3 separate regions of the Homo sapiens genome follow, and all the other regions are reported to be linked to region 1. The links are microRNA targets in miRTarBase. Many come from high-throughput screens and were not tested one by one. Region 1 holds a microRNA gene; each other region holds the end of a gene's coding sequence. Distances are between the middles of the regions.

Region 1 (4,249 bases):
AAAAAAAGGACTATAAAATAGGAGTGCCAATAATACCTTCTTCACTGGGTTTGTGAGAAAACTAAGTTAAATAATATGTGTAGAGTGCTTCATGCAATAGTGACTATTGGTCGTTGTTATCAAATACTTAAAACACTCCTACTGCCTGGGAGGATGCTAAATTCCTAGCAATGTTTTTATTGTTTCCTTTAATGAAACCTCATGTTTTGAAATATTTTGTGTAACAAATTGCATATATGGTTAATAATTTTTTTCTTTTGTTACTATCAAAGGCATTTTAGACTGTTAGTTGGAGCTTCTGATTAGCAATTGCATCAATATTGAGTTGAATTAAATCCAATGAAAGCAAAGAAACCTGATATTTGGAGAGCCTTCTTATCCTCATCTAAGGAAATGTATTTCTTTCAGGTCACCTGAAGTGGTGAAGTGTCTAAAACATCTTGTTGATCTCCAGCACTGAGTTTACAGACTCTAGACATAGTTGGGCTCCACTTTTCAATGAACAAGCCAAACCTTATTATTATAATCTGAGTGAGTTGACATTTTGTGTGTGATCTAATTCAATTTTTGAATGTTACAATTTTTTCCATCACATCATGGGAAATTGGTGTGGTCCAGAAATAATCCAAATGAATTCACTAAGAATGAAACTGAAGATGAATTTTTAACATGCTACCAGAAGTTATTGATTAACAGGCATACCAATGTTTCAGATACTAACAGATACATAACATTATTATAAATATATAAAAATCAAATTATGGCTTTTATTCATTGTCATTGAAGACCAATTTCAATAATAATTTTTAATACTTTTTATTTTTTGTTTTACCTTTTAGTCATGACATTTTTATTATATTAGAGGAGAAGGGAAAATAATTTTTTTAGTATATAGAAATTGGATTGCTTACAGACAAATTAAACTTAGGAGGGAAAATTATAAAGGATGTTGAAAACTATAAATTTAAACAAACATCTCTTATTTTGACAGGATATGTTTCAGAGAGAACAAATCTTGAGTCTTTCAAATATTACTGGGCCAGACTAAAATAATTTCATTGTGAGAGCATTTTCCTTCTCTGTGTGCAGTCTAAGTGCATATTTTGTGCTCTTAGGAATAACTTTCCAAAGCTGTGCGAAGAATGTAGCAATAAAATCTAATAAGAATTATGGCTCATGACTTGAATGATGTCAGTACCCTTTTAATCCTCCCAAACATGAAAACGTTTTCTCCTCTTAAATAAGATTTCTTAACTCCTTATTTCTAAGGAAATAAGTACATCTGAGCAATTCTATTGGCAAAGTAAGAGTTAAATGAAAATGTTTCTTTCCATTATTATTAATGCTTATACTTATTAAGACCACTACTTTAGAAATGTATTCTAGACAATATTTTTATGAATACATATTATTTTGTCTGATTATTTTAGTGTTCCAGTTATAATCTTTTGCTCTCTCTAAGCCAGTGGTTCTCAAACTTGAGCATGAATCGGAATTACCTGGAAAGCTTGTTGAAACACAGATTGCAGGGCCCATTCTGAGTTTCTGATTCAGGAGGCCTCTAGTGGGGTGCAAGAATTTGCATTTCTAACAGGTTCCTAGGTGACGCTGCTGATGCTAGTCTGGGAATCAAACTTTGACAACAACTGCTTTAAGCCATGTTACAAACAACCTTCTTATTTTAAAATTTAATTTAGTGGGATTCAACCATCACGAGGCATGTAGTCACCTTGGTTTAGAAGAAGTTAAAGTTCAGTAAGTGGGCTATAGCTTGGCTTTTTGGCCATGCTAGATTTATTCCAGGCCAAAGAACTGCTTATAACAAAAGCATAGTTGATGAAATGGTTCGATGCTTGAAGATGTCAGACTGTAGAATCTCTACGGGTAAGTGTGTGATTTCCTCAGTGACATCACATTTGCCTGCAGAGATTTTCCAGTCTGCCACTTTGAAGTTGTACTTAAGATAGAAAAAAGTTGTCGTCATTCTACAGTGATCTTTCTGGTCTTGCTAAATTTTAAAACTATATTTATTCAAGATTAAAATTGATGGGAAGTAGGAGTTATAGCTGGGATTCAGATAGGTGCATAAATGAGAATGGATACTCTCTAATTTTGCCACACATCTCCATAGAGAATGAAGGAAAAGATGAAAAGTGAAGTTTCCCAAGCCACAACCAGTGGATGAGACTAGTATACCTTGGTCATGGAAGAAAGACGAGGCTTCTTATGCCATCATTCATTTTTTTTTCTCAAATTATGCTGTTTGTTTCATATGTGCTTATTTTACCAGTGTGTTAGTCACACCAAAAGCCTTATGGTCAATCCAGGTAAATATCCTTGCATTTCAAGCAATTTTATCTAACGTTAGACTTTGCAGTTGAGTTTCTTAGTCTTTTGTAATTTAGTTATGCCTAAGTAATAACAAGATTAGATGAGTAGAATGAGGAGATGTGCTTTTTACTTTTATTCTCTCCATCTTTCTTCTGCCTAATAATGGTCTTATGATAATACCATCACCTGCTGCTAATCTTTAAAGTGCTGGAATAATGCATGATATGCAATATTTACTTTAGAGCTCAAAAATCTAACTTGTGAATATTGTGATATTATTAACACTACAATGTCGGGTTTTGGGTCAATGTCAACTATAAATTTATTCCAACATTTTCCTAGAACAGGGACTTCATATATTTTGTTCTCTTCTATATCCCAGCACATGGAATAATTCCTGGCCTATAGGAGGTGCTCAGTAAACATTTATTAATGATTGGCTATTACTTAGGATGTTTTTTGCAAATACTTGTTTACCATTAGAAAGGAAATATATATATATATATTCACATATTTTATTGATATTACAGTGACATTTAATTTCAGACAAGATAAAATGAGAGAATATTTAAATATGTAAATCTTGGTAATAAAGAATCCTCCTACAATAAAATGCATTATAATACAATTTTTTGTAATACTTGGTTTAGGAGTAGATTAATAACTTCCTTAAAGTATAACAATGTTATATTATGTTTTTCAGGCATGTAGTTGAATTTCAGATGATGAGTTTTTTAGTCCGGGTTACGTCCAAATTTATGTAATAATGAATCACAAAATTAGGGTTGATTATGTTTACACTACACAACACAGTGTCTTGATTATCTGTTAATCTGCTATACACACATCCTTGGACCTCAAGATGACTTTAAAAGCGTCCTCTCAATTGCATTCTGACTTTCCTAAATAAACCATAAATAGAAACTTAACAGTAAATCTCTCATAAGTGTGCAGAGGATATAACAGGTGGCTCTGATCTGATGTAAGTGTAGCTAAAATAATGTGTTGAAATAATTGCAGCTTAGAAAGATAGAAAACATCTGGGCTTCAAGGGAGAACACTTCCATCCTTTTTGCTGCTTTTAAAAATAGAGAACTACATCATTCTGGGTTGCATAGAAAGAAGGGGCTGTGTTAGAAACTCTATGATCCTCAGTCTGTTCATCTAAAGCTCCAAAGGATGAGACTACTATACCTTGGTTGTGGAAGAAACACTAGACTTCTTAGGCCATCATTCATTTTCTTTTCTCAAATTATTATTTTTGTTTATTTGTGCTTGCAGGGCCTGATTAACAGTGTCACTTGTTCTCTTGAAGGAAAACTGAAGTTGTGAATGATGGAATTATAGTTGCCATTTCTCCAATTGTTGATATCTTGTTTGTTCCTTTGCTCCATGGGAAGGCATGGATGGAACAGAGCTTTGAGACAGAATCCTCATTTTAGTTGCCTCTATGAGTAGGCTGTTTAGAGGCTGCCAGCCTATAATATGGGGCTCTTGTTAGTTTAAGTACTTAGGTAGAAAAAGACCCTTCTATAAATGCAAATTTTTAATATCTAAGCATTATCTGCCACCAACATTAGTACAGATGAATTTATAAGATTATTTCTAGCAGACAGTAAAGACCTGAAAAAAAAATTGAACAGTACAGTTACATCTTAAAAGATCAGAGGTCAAGATCTACCCAGTGATTCTCAACGCTGGCTGTATATCAGAAACATTTTGGATTTATGGAGAAGACAGATTTCCAAGCCCCAACCAAGACCTACCTCCTGAACCTGAACTTACAAGATGTGGACTGGAGAAGTCTCTTTTTTAAGAAAAAAATTAGTAAACTTTATTTTTTAGGGCAGTTTTAGATTCACGCAAAATTGAGTGGAAAGTATAGAGAGTTCCTATATACCCTATCCCCATCCATGTA
Region 2 (4,249 bases), 170 Mb from region 1:
AGCATAAGGTAAGTCATGTCACATTTTACTGAAGGGTCTTCTCAGTCGGATCTCTCAAATCTCATTTCTGAAATTTCTGTTTATAGAAAAAACAAAAATCTATTTTTGGAGGGGTGTGATAAGCCCATTTTGAAAGCTTATCAATTGGCTTTCTGGCAATAATTGTAACAAGAGAATGTGGGTATACAAATATGTTGAATATTAAAATATTCTGAAATAGGAAATGGTTTATACTTGTAACCGTCTTGCTGATGAAGACCTTATATGCAGAGCTGAACACCTAATGCCTAATGATGTTTATGGAATTGTCATTGAAAAAAATGAATTGGCAGTAATGTGTTCAACTCTGTGCTAGGCATTAGGCATACAAAAACGAGTCAAGCATGGTCCCTGCCCTCAAGGGGCTTGCATTTTGGCAATGGAATGAAGGAAGTGCACTGAGACATTAAAGAAGCAATGGGGAACGGAGAAAATGAGGACAGCCCCGTGCACTGCACAAGAGCAGCAGAAGGGAGCCTAAGTTTCCCCCAGGGAATTCACCTCCCACGCAGGGTAAACTGACCCCAGGGAGGACATCACTGGTGAAGCAGGAGCAAAGTCGAAGAGGTGCTGGGAGTGTCTGCAGAGCTGCACACAGTTCATCATGACAGGAAATACTCCTAGAGGGAACCCTCGAACAGTCCCCACTGGACCTTTCACCCCATAGGAAGTCATTTGGACTTCATGGGCAGCGGAGTCACAGAAGGATTCTAATCCAGAGGGTGACAAAATCAAGTTTGGGTGGATCTTAGATGGCAACTGGGATTTGAAACTAAGGCACCAACTGGGAGATGCCTACTGCAAGGGTGGAGGTGGAAAACAAAGGCTGTGTGAGACGGGCACGGGGCTAAAGAGGAGGTAGCCATCCAAAGCAGCGATGACTCAGCTTTCAATGTGGGGAGTGTGAGAGCAGAACGAAAGGGCCACTCATAGCATGGAAACCTGCCTGGATGAATGGGCTCCACTCACTGAGAATCAGAACCCAGAAGGAAGCATCCCAGATTTCCAGCACGGGCACAGAACAGAACAGTTCCCATTAGGGCAATCTAGGCACGTTCCAGTCTACAAGGTTGGTGGGGAGGCAGGGAGAGAAGGGTTTGATAAGGATCATCTCCAATAATGGGTTAGGAGAACAACTTAAAAGCTTTGTTCATCACCTCCACAGAGAAAGGGTAATTGAAGGCACATTGATATATAACCAGGTGAAGAAAATAATGGTTTAAGGTAACAGGATCTTCTATTCCAAGAAGTTATTTTTCCGCCCTTTTGATCCTTTAAAATACTTTTGTAAAATTAGAGGGCAGTGTTAATGCTGCATTTAGAGACAGCTCTTGTAATACTAACATTTTGAACAGTCTGATACCTTCCCAAGCTCACTGTGGAGTAAACTGTCTACATAATTTAGCCTGTCTTTGTGTGGGTTTTTTTTTTTTACTTATTTATTAACTTATGAAGATAATATTCTAATACCAACATTAAAGTGTTTAAAATAATTAGCAAGCAAGATACGTTTCTGATGTTCCATTTGTCACCCTTACCTCTTCCCAGAAAATGTTCTCAGGCCAAGTTCAAGATGAACAGGTTGAACTTTTAGGAGGGTTGACTTTTGGTAATAGATAAAGCTTTTTGGGAAGGAGAAAGGTAATCACAAATAAGATTGAAATTGGCTTAAGTTTTAGGTGCACAAAAATATTCAACATGCCAGAGCATGGTTTAAAAAATATCAAATGGGTCAAATGAACTAGGAAATATTCTGCTACATCAAGAAAATATTTCATCTTAAAATACACATTTTTCTTTTTACCAGAAAATACTCTTAAAATAAATTGCCACCCTGGGGGCAGCCCATAGCAAAACTCATTTGAAATGTGTTCTGCATATAAGAGCTCATTACAAATCAAGGTTTGGCAAGGAAAACATTTCTTATAAACAAAATTTTAATTGAGTTTTTCTTCTCAATTATTTTTAAGTGCACGGAAACAAAGCACTAAAATGAGTGTCACGCTCATGAGAAATTTCTTTAGTTTTCTCTAAAATGCCTTTTTCTTTTAGATGAGGAAGGTGAGTTTCCTAAAAATTTTTTCCAACAAATCTTTTAAATTTAGGATTAGATCACCAAATTCCTAGCAAAACAGAAAAAGGGATCTTTTGCTTTACAGAAAAAAATAATCATTATAAATTGACACACATTCTAAACTTTTTTAGAAAATACTAATGCCAAATGTCAAACTGTTGCCTTGGTACAAGACTGATATGAAATATAAGAATGTCTTTAAAATTGGCAAAATGGGATGCTCCTGTAACAGCCAACCACGGGAGCATAAAATTCAAATTATAAATTGTCTTTGTTTCGTTTAAAGATAGTGCCATGTCCTCCTGATGGGGTAACCCTGACTTAAATGAATCTTCTTACCTAAGTTTAATTAAATCGGCCCTTAATTTTCTCCCAAGTGCATAATGATAGCTCTGTCACGTCCCTGTGTGAGCTGCCATTATGTGTGTGGAGCAAAGTGTCCGTTGTGAGTGCAAGAAGCTGTGCAGGCTCTCCTGGGGAGGGGAGTGAGATGCTTTGTATGAAGCGCGTGCCTGCCTGAGTGAGCCCCATGTAGCGTCAGTCCCATTAGCACGCACGCACCTGTGACACGCCGGACCCCGACTGGGGAAAAGCAGTCTGTCTGGAAGTTCACTGCAATGGGGAGTCAATTTTTGTGAATAACTACCTTAATATTCACTAATAGCTTTTAGGCTCCTAATCTCTTATTGAATATTTTTTTTCCATAATTGCTACTTTTCAAAAGGGTTGCCAAAGTAGGCATTTCTATTCTCTGAAAAATGCAGAAGAGAACATAATGTTTTATATTCATCTGTGATGTGTTTATGCTAATGTCGCATCTCTGGAATACGGCGACTGTGGGCCTTCCTGCCATCATGATTCATTCTCCTTTGAAAGGAACTGTTAACGCTGGCAGTGTGAATTTTTTTTTTTCTTCTTTAAAAAAAAATCTCTCTTTGCGTCATGGTTTTACCATTATTTAAAGTATATGGAAAAATAGATTACAGAGGAAATCATTTTGAAATGTTGAAAATCTCTGCTTTCTAGTTTCATTCATTGACCTGTTTATTTTTTCCTATAAAATCCATCCAGAAGCCCACTGTATTATAGAGTAATTGACTTCAATTGTTTGAGATACTGTTAACCCAAGAATGAAGTTTTCAGTAATGTAATTTGTAATCTGGCCTTTATCATCTACTTGCCTTTCTGAGAATTAGCATATTTTTAAGTAAAGCCAGTTCTTCGATCATCCTCAGTAAAATAAGAGTATCTAGGCTCCCTAGATTGGGAGGTCCAAACAAATCCATCTGTGCAGCATTTGCTTAATGTGTAAGGAACCAGAGGACTCTGGGAATAACCACGACAAAACAGAAGGAACCACTGAAAGGGAGTCCAAAATGAGCACCATGACATCTCTTAGCACAGTCTAGGAAGTCTTAGCCCCCTAGGAAGTTTCTCTTGGCCACGTGTTGGTGAATTTCGCATTCTCTAGCTATACTTCACGCAGACCTGGCACCGGCTGATTTTCTGGCGTTGGGCCTGGCTTTCTTTTAAGGTGTCTGGTGCTGGAGCAGAGGAAAACTGCAAGTCTGCTTTCACCGTTGTGAGCCAGAAGCTATACTTATTTGCGAAAAAGTGGCAAGTTCCCTGCCGGCCCTGGCATTCAAGGAATGGTGCTGCTCTGAAATCTTCCAGGCAGCTGCCAGGTGACATAAGGGCCTGCCCTCCTCCTTGGTCCCCAGCTCCTGTGTGCTACCCAGAAAACAAGAGAGAATTAGGGCTCAGACACACACAGACAACCCCAGACCCAATCAGGGACACACCCAGGTTTGGGTCTGATCTTAACATTTTTCCTTAGATTATTCCATAAAGAACAAAATACAAGCGCTGAAAAGGAGTCGTACTCAGCATGGTAAGTATGCACACAAATTGGCTCCAGTTTCACCGATGGCTGAAGCAAACTCATCTTCTAAATTCTACCAATGTGATCAAAATCAATCACAAGTGTTTTTAAAAGATAATGGCCCTGCATCCCAACAGGCTATGGTTTGCAACAGTCCCCGTAACCTTATGTCCTAAGCGCAGAGTGCTCAGAATTACTGTCCAATCCAGAGAGAAATGGCGGGAGAAGGTGTTAGGAAATGGTGAATGAGCCAG
Region 3 (4,249 bases), not on the chromosome of region 1:
AAGCAGATGTTGGAGAAGGAGATTTCTCCTTGTATAGCTGCTCCTTTGATTTGAAGAAATCTCAGTAATTTTATCCGCTAAAGAGTGTGAGAGAATATTGTTTCATTTAAAAATACTTTCCACAGTTTCACTTGGTTTCACCAATTTCAATTGGTTTTAAATCATTAGGATGTCTAAGTAAACTATTGATTTCTTCCACAGGTCTAGTACATTAGGTTCCTCTGCTTTACCTTGCCATCTTTAATGTTTGTATTCTTTTAAAATTAGCTGGTCCTTTATAAGTATGTAAATATTGTAGCTAGCAATGTGCTGTTTATTAACAATACCTGTTTCCACTACTTTTTTAGGGTCCTGGTTGCTGCTCTGATCTTGCAGTTTCTTTTCACTATGTTGATTCTACAACCATGTATGAGTTAGAATACCTCGTTTATCATCTTCGTCCATATGGTTATTTATACAGATATCAACCTACCTTACCTGAACGTATACTAAAGGAAATTAGTCAAGCAAACAAAAATGAAGATACAAAAGTGAAGTTAGGAAATCCTTGAAAGAAAATCATGAATGAACAAAGGTAATATGTCTAGCACTGCACTGAAAAAGGACTTCTGCATTTCTGACATAGAACACTGGAATCCCAGTGAGGAATTCTAAGTGAACATTCCTTATAGAAACCTTTCACATGAATGACTATAAACTGAAGCTTTAAATGAGCTGTGAAGTGTGTTAAAATGTGTTTTGATACAGTAATATATAAATATGTCTATATATATGAGGAACTTGTGTTTTTTAAATGGTGGCCAGGTAGAGGAACTAGAAAAGAGATTTTGTTGCCTGTTTTCTGACCATCTGTGTTATTGTCACTGAGAAACTAAAATAGTAAATTTACTAAAACTACACTGCACCATGTTAGTAATAAACAGATCTGCCTTAAAGAAAAGAAAATTTTAGAAAGAAATATTGTTGCTCAGTGTTGTTAATATAGCTCAAGAATTGAGTTTATATTTGCAGTATGCTATAAATGATACCCCCCTACCACACCCACACACACAGTTTTTGTCTAATGAAAATGTTGCTGTGATTATTTATAATTGGTAGTATTTCTTCCAGAAGAAGCTAAAATAAGACTGGCACTTACCCTGAAGTGCATTAATAAAACCACACTTTAAAATTATCATGGGCCTTGACTATATTATATACTTGATTCTAATTAGTCATCTTTTACGCAATCTCTGTTGTCTCTTTTCTAAATGTGTTTAGCCACTCTTGAATACCATTCTCCACTATTAACATTAATTTACTCAAACCGTTCATAGCATTCTGTAAACATGTATTTTACATATTTGTTCCCAAATTTGCCCATTGTTCATTATGGGTAACTAATAATAAATTTAATGCTGTTTCAGGATGCTTTTCTTATAACAGTGCCACTCTCAGGAATTACTAAGTGACATTTTAAATTGATATTTTAAACTCTTTCCAACTACATAGTTATGGTTTATTTCATTCTCATCCTGTTGGGATGAGAACTTGTTTGTGCCTTTCATAACTTGTTTAAAGCAGAGTTTTAAAATTAGTTTATAGGATCTGAGGTGGCTATTAGTTACAGTGGCAAGATTATTTAGAAAGCAAGATTTTGATGAGAATTAAAAACAATAGAAAATGTAGAGTGCTTAAACAAAAATGTTATATTTTGAAAGAGTAGATACTTAATTTATAAATAACAGTCTGAAGGTTGGTGCTATTTTGGGATAATTGTTTTGCTAATGGATAATTCTAACAATGCAGAATACCTAGTCAAGACTGTCATCAAAAACATTCACAAATGTTTCATTCTATTTTTAGTGACTCTGTTTAAAGAGTTTCTGAAAGGAAAGAAATTTTTTATTTTTATTATCTTTAGCAGTACTGAGTGTCATAGCAGAATATTTTACAGACTTTCTATGAGATTATTTTTATGGTACAAAGTATTTACATTTCCCTCATGTTTATCATTATGCCAATTTTACATGGCAGTCATGCCACTGACTCTGCTATTTAGCTAAGTAATTTCTTTTTTCGGAGACTGTCTCACTCTGTCTCCCAGGCTGGACTGCAGTGGTGCGATTCTCCTGCCTCAGCCTCCCGAGTAGCGGGGATTACAGGCACGCGCTGCCACGCCCCGCCAGTTTTCATATTTTTAGTAGAGACAGGGTTTTGCCGTGTTGGCCAGGCTGGTCTTGAACTCCTGACCTCAGGTGATCCACCCACCTTGGCATCCCAAAGTGCTGGGATTACGAGCGTGAGTCACAGCACCCGGCTAAGTAATTTCTATTTATTGTGCCAAAACATGTCAAAATCATGACCTCTTTGAATGGTATATTTGAGAGGATGTTCATTTCATTGGTTAACCATGGACTACTCTGTCCACGTAGTGAAAACATGCACCAGTTTTTACCTATTATCATGGTAGTATCATCTGCCAAAATTTCAAGGCATTCATTTTATTCTTTGAACAACTCTTCACCATGGTGTGGACATGAATTTTCATATGTGTTACTTGACTAGAAGTATAAATGGTTTACTATAGATATCCAAAAACCTTGAGATTTGCTCATAGGAAATGAATATTGTGATGAATCCTGGGCTCTAGAGTCAGACTTGCTTGGGTTTAAATTCTTGCTCTAACACTTACTGTTTTTGTAACCTTGAGCAATTTTAATCTCTCTGTGTCTCAATTTCCTCATCTTTTAATTAGGGATGATAATACTACCTACCTCACAGGATTTTTATGAGGATTAAATAAATGTAAGGTTTTTAGAACATTGATAGGGAGCAATAAATAGAAGATTGTATTATTATTCTGTTACCTTGGAGTGTAAGTACTGCATTTAAGTGAATGAAAAATTTGCTTTGACCAGATACTGAAGGAAATAAGTAATAGCTAGTATTTATCCAATGCCAACTGTATGCTAGGTACTGTGCTTAGATAATCTGTGTATAATAGTGTTAATCCTCAAAATTTGGGTGTTATACCCCTATTATAGATAAGGAAACTGAGGCTCAGAGACAAAGTAACTTTGTCACTGTCACAAAGCTAGTAAGTAACAGAGGTAGGATTTATATTCAAAACCCTGTGTGTTCATTGGAACCGTATCAGGCTTGGGGCTATTCATGTAGCATTATTTCCATTTTTATGTATATGATATATGACGTCTGATGCATTGGCCAGTAATAGTCAAATTAACCCAGCCAAATTGTCACAGTGATTCTTAAACTGTGGTTCTCACACTTGCCCAGGATGTTGTTAAATGCAGATCTGAAGACCCCAATCTCAGAAATTCAAATTTAAGCATGGGGCCCAAGAGTATGCATTCTTACCAGATACCTTGGGCAGTGACTGTCAAAAGTCTGGTCCCAACAAACAGCATTAACGTCACCTGGGAACTTGTTGGAAATGCAGCCTCTCTCGGGGCCTCATCTCAGATCAGATCTACTAAATCAGATACTCTAGGGGCAGGGGCAGGGGCAGGGGCTAGCAGTTGTGTTTAAGCAAACTCTGCAGGTGTCTTTCTTATCCTAGTTTGAGAACCAATACCCAACAACCTACGTGATTTTGGTGCAAGTAGTGTTTGAAACACACTGAAGATTACTGCCCAATTACTAAGACATTTTTCAAAAAGCATGTTTTAAATCAGTGTAGTCCAGGATCACACTATATTAAATATAAAGATAACTTAAAGGATCATTGGATCATTCATTTTGGCCAAATTTTTAGCTTCTCCAAAGTGACTAACATCAGGGCCTACAATAAAATCTGTAATTCTCCAAGTTTAGTAATTTTATATTGAGGCAGGAAGGGCTCATTAAGTACTAATAAGTACATAATTTATTAAAAACATACATAAGTGTCATCAAAAAGGTCCACAATTGTTAGTAAAAAAAATTAAATTGAAGTAGTAAATGCTGTTTTATAACATACATTTTTCTGCTAATTCATTCTGTTTTGTGTGACCTAATAAAGCAAAAGAAAAATAAAAAAGCAATTCTCCAAGTACTTCATAGAGCACATAAAACCAGATTTCATGATGATGATGTATTCACTATCTTTTAGATTAAGATCTTTGTTATTTGGTAAATGATTTCAGTATGGTTTTAAAACATAAGGCTTTTGATGTCTTATGTTCTCTAATAATGGTATGCTTGTATTTTCTAGTGGGAAGTTCATAGATAAAGCAGATTTTTGTCCCAGTTTGCTTTCAAATATAAA

Evidence for each region. The annotated mature microRNA hsa-miR-216b-5p reads AAAUCUCUGCAGGCAAAUGUGA and lies in region 1 at 1,911-1,932, opposite strand. An mRNA with a match to its seed (bases 2 to 7 or 8) in the 3' UTR can be bound and repressed. Matches are read on the target gene's strand: a 7mer-m8 pairs with bases 2 to 8, a 7mer-A1 pairs with bases 2 to 7 and ends in A, and an 8mer does both.
Region 2: the mRNA of COL4A4 is a reported target of hsa-miR-216b-5p. Seed matches in the 3' UTR shown: 7mer-m8 at 3,124-3,130, 7mer-m8 at 3,040-3,046 and 8mer at 2,790-2,797.
Region 3: the mRNA of C1GALT1 is a reported target of hsa-miR-216b-5p. Seed matches in the 3' UTR shown: 7mer-m8 at 821-827 and 7mer-A1 at 1,946-1,952.

Annotation. Positions count from the first base shown.
Region 1 is chr2:55,998,854-56,003,102 of GRCh38, forward strand. MIR216B (microRNA 216b) reads right to left here and starts at 1,942; the gene lies at 1,861-1,942. All of the region lies in intron 2 of MIR217HG (MIR217 host gene), which reads right to left. The region is part of intron 3 of LOC105374690 (a long non-coding RNA gene); the gene reads left to right.
Region 2 is chr2:227,003,745-227,007,993 of GRCh38, forward strand. COL4A4 (collagen type IV alpha 4 chain) reads right to left here. Exons shown (of 48, transcript NM_000092.5): 48 at 1-3,844. The coding sequence ends at 3,581. Among named protein-coding and RNA genes, the nearest start is that of COL4A4, 160 kb to the right of the region's middle.
Region 3 is chr7:7,243,177-7,247,425 of GRCh38, forward strand. It overlaps C1GALT1 (core 1 synthase, glycoprotein-N-acetylgalactosamine 3-beta-galactosyltransferase 1), which reads left to right. Exons shown (of 4, transcript NM_020156.5): 4 at 348-4,249. The coding sequence ends at 551. Among named protein-coding and RNA genes, the nearest start is that of LINC03016, 9.9 kb to the right of the region's middle.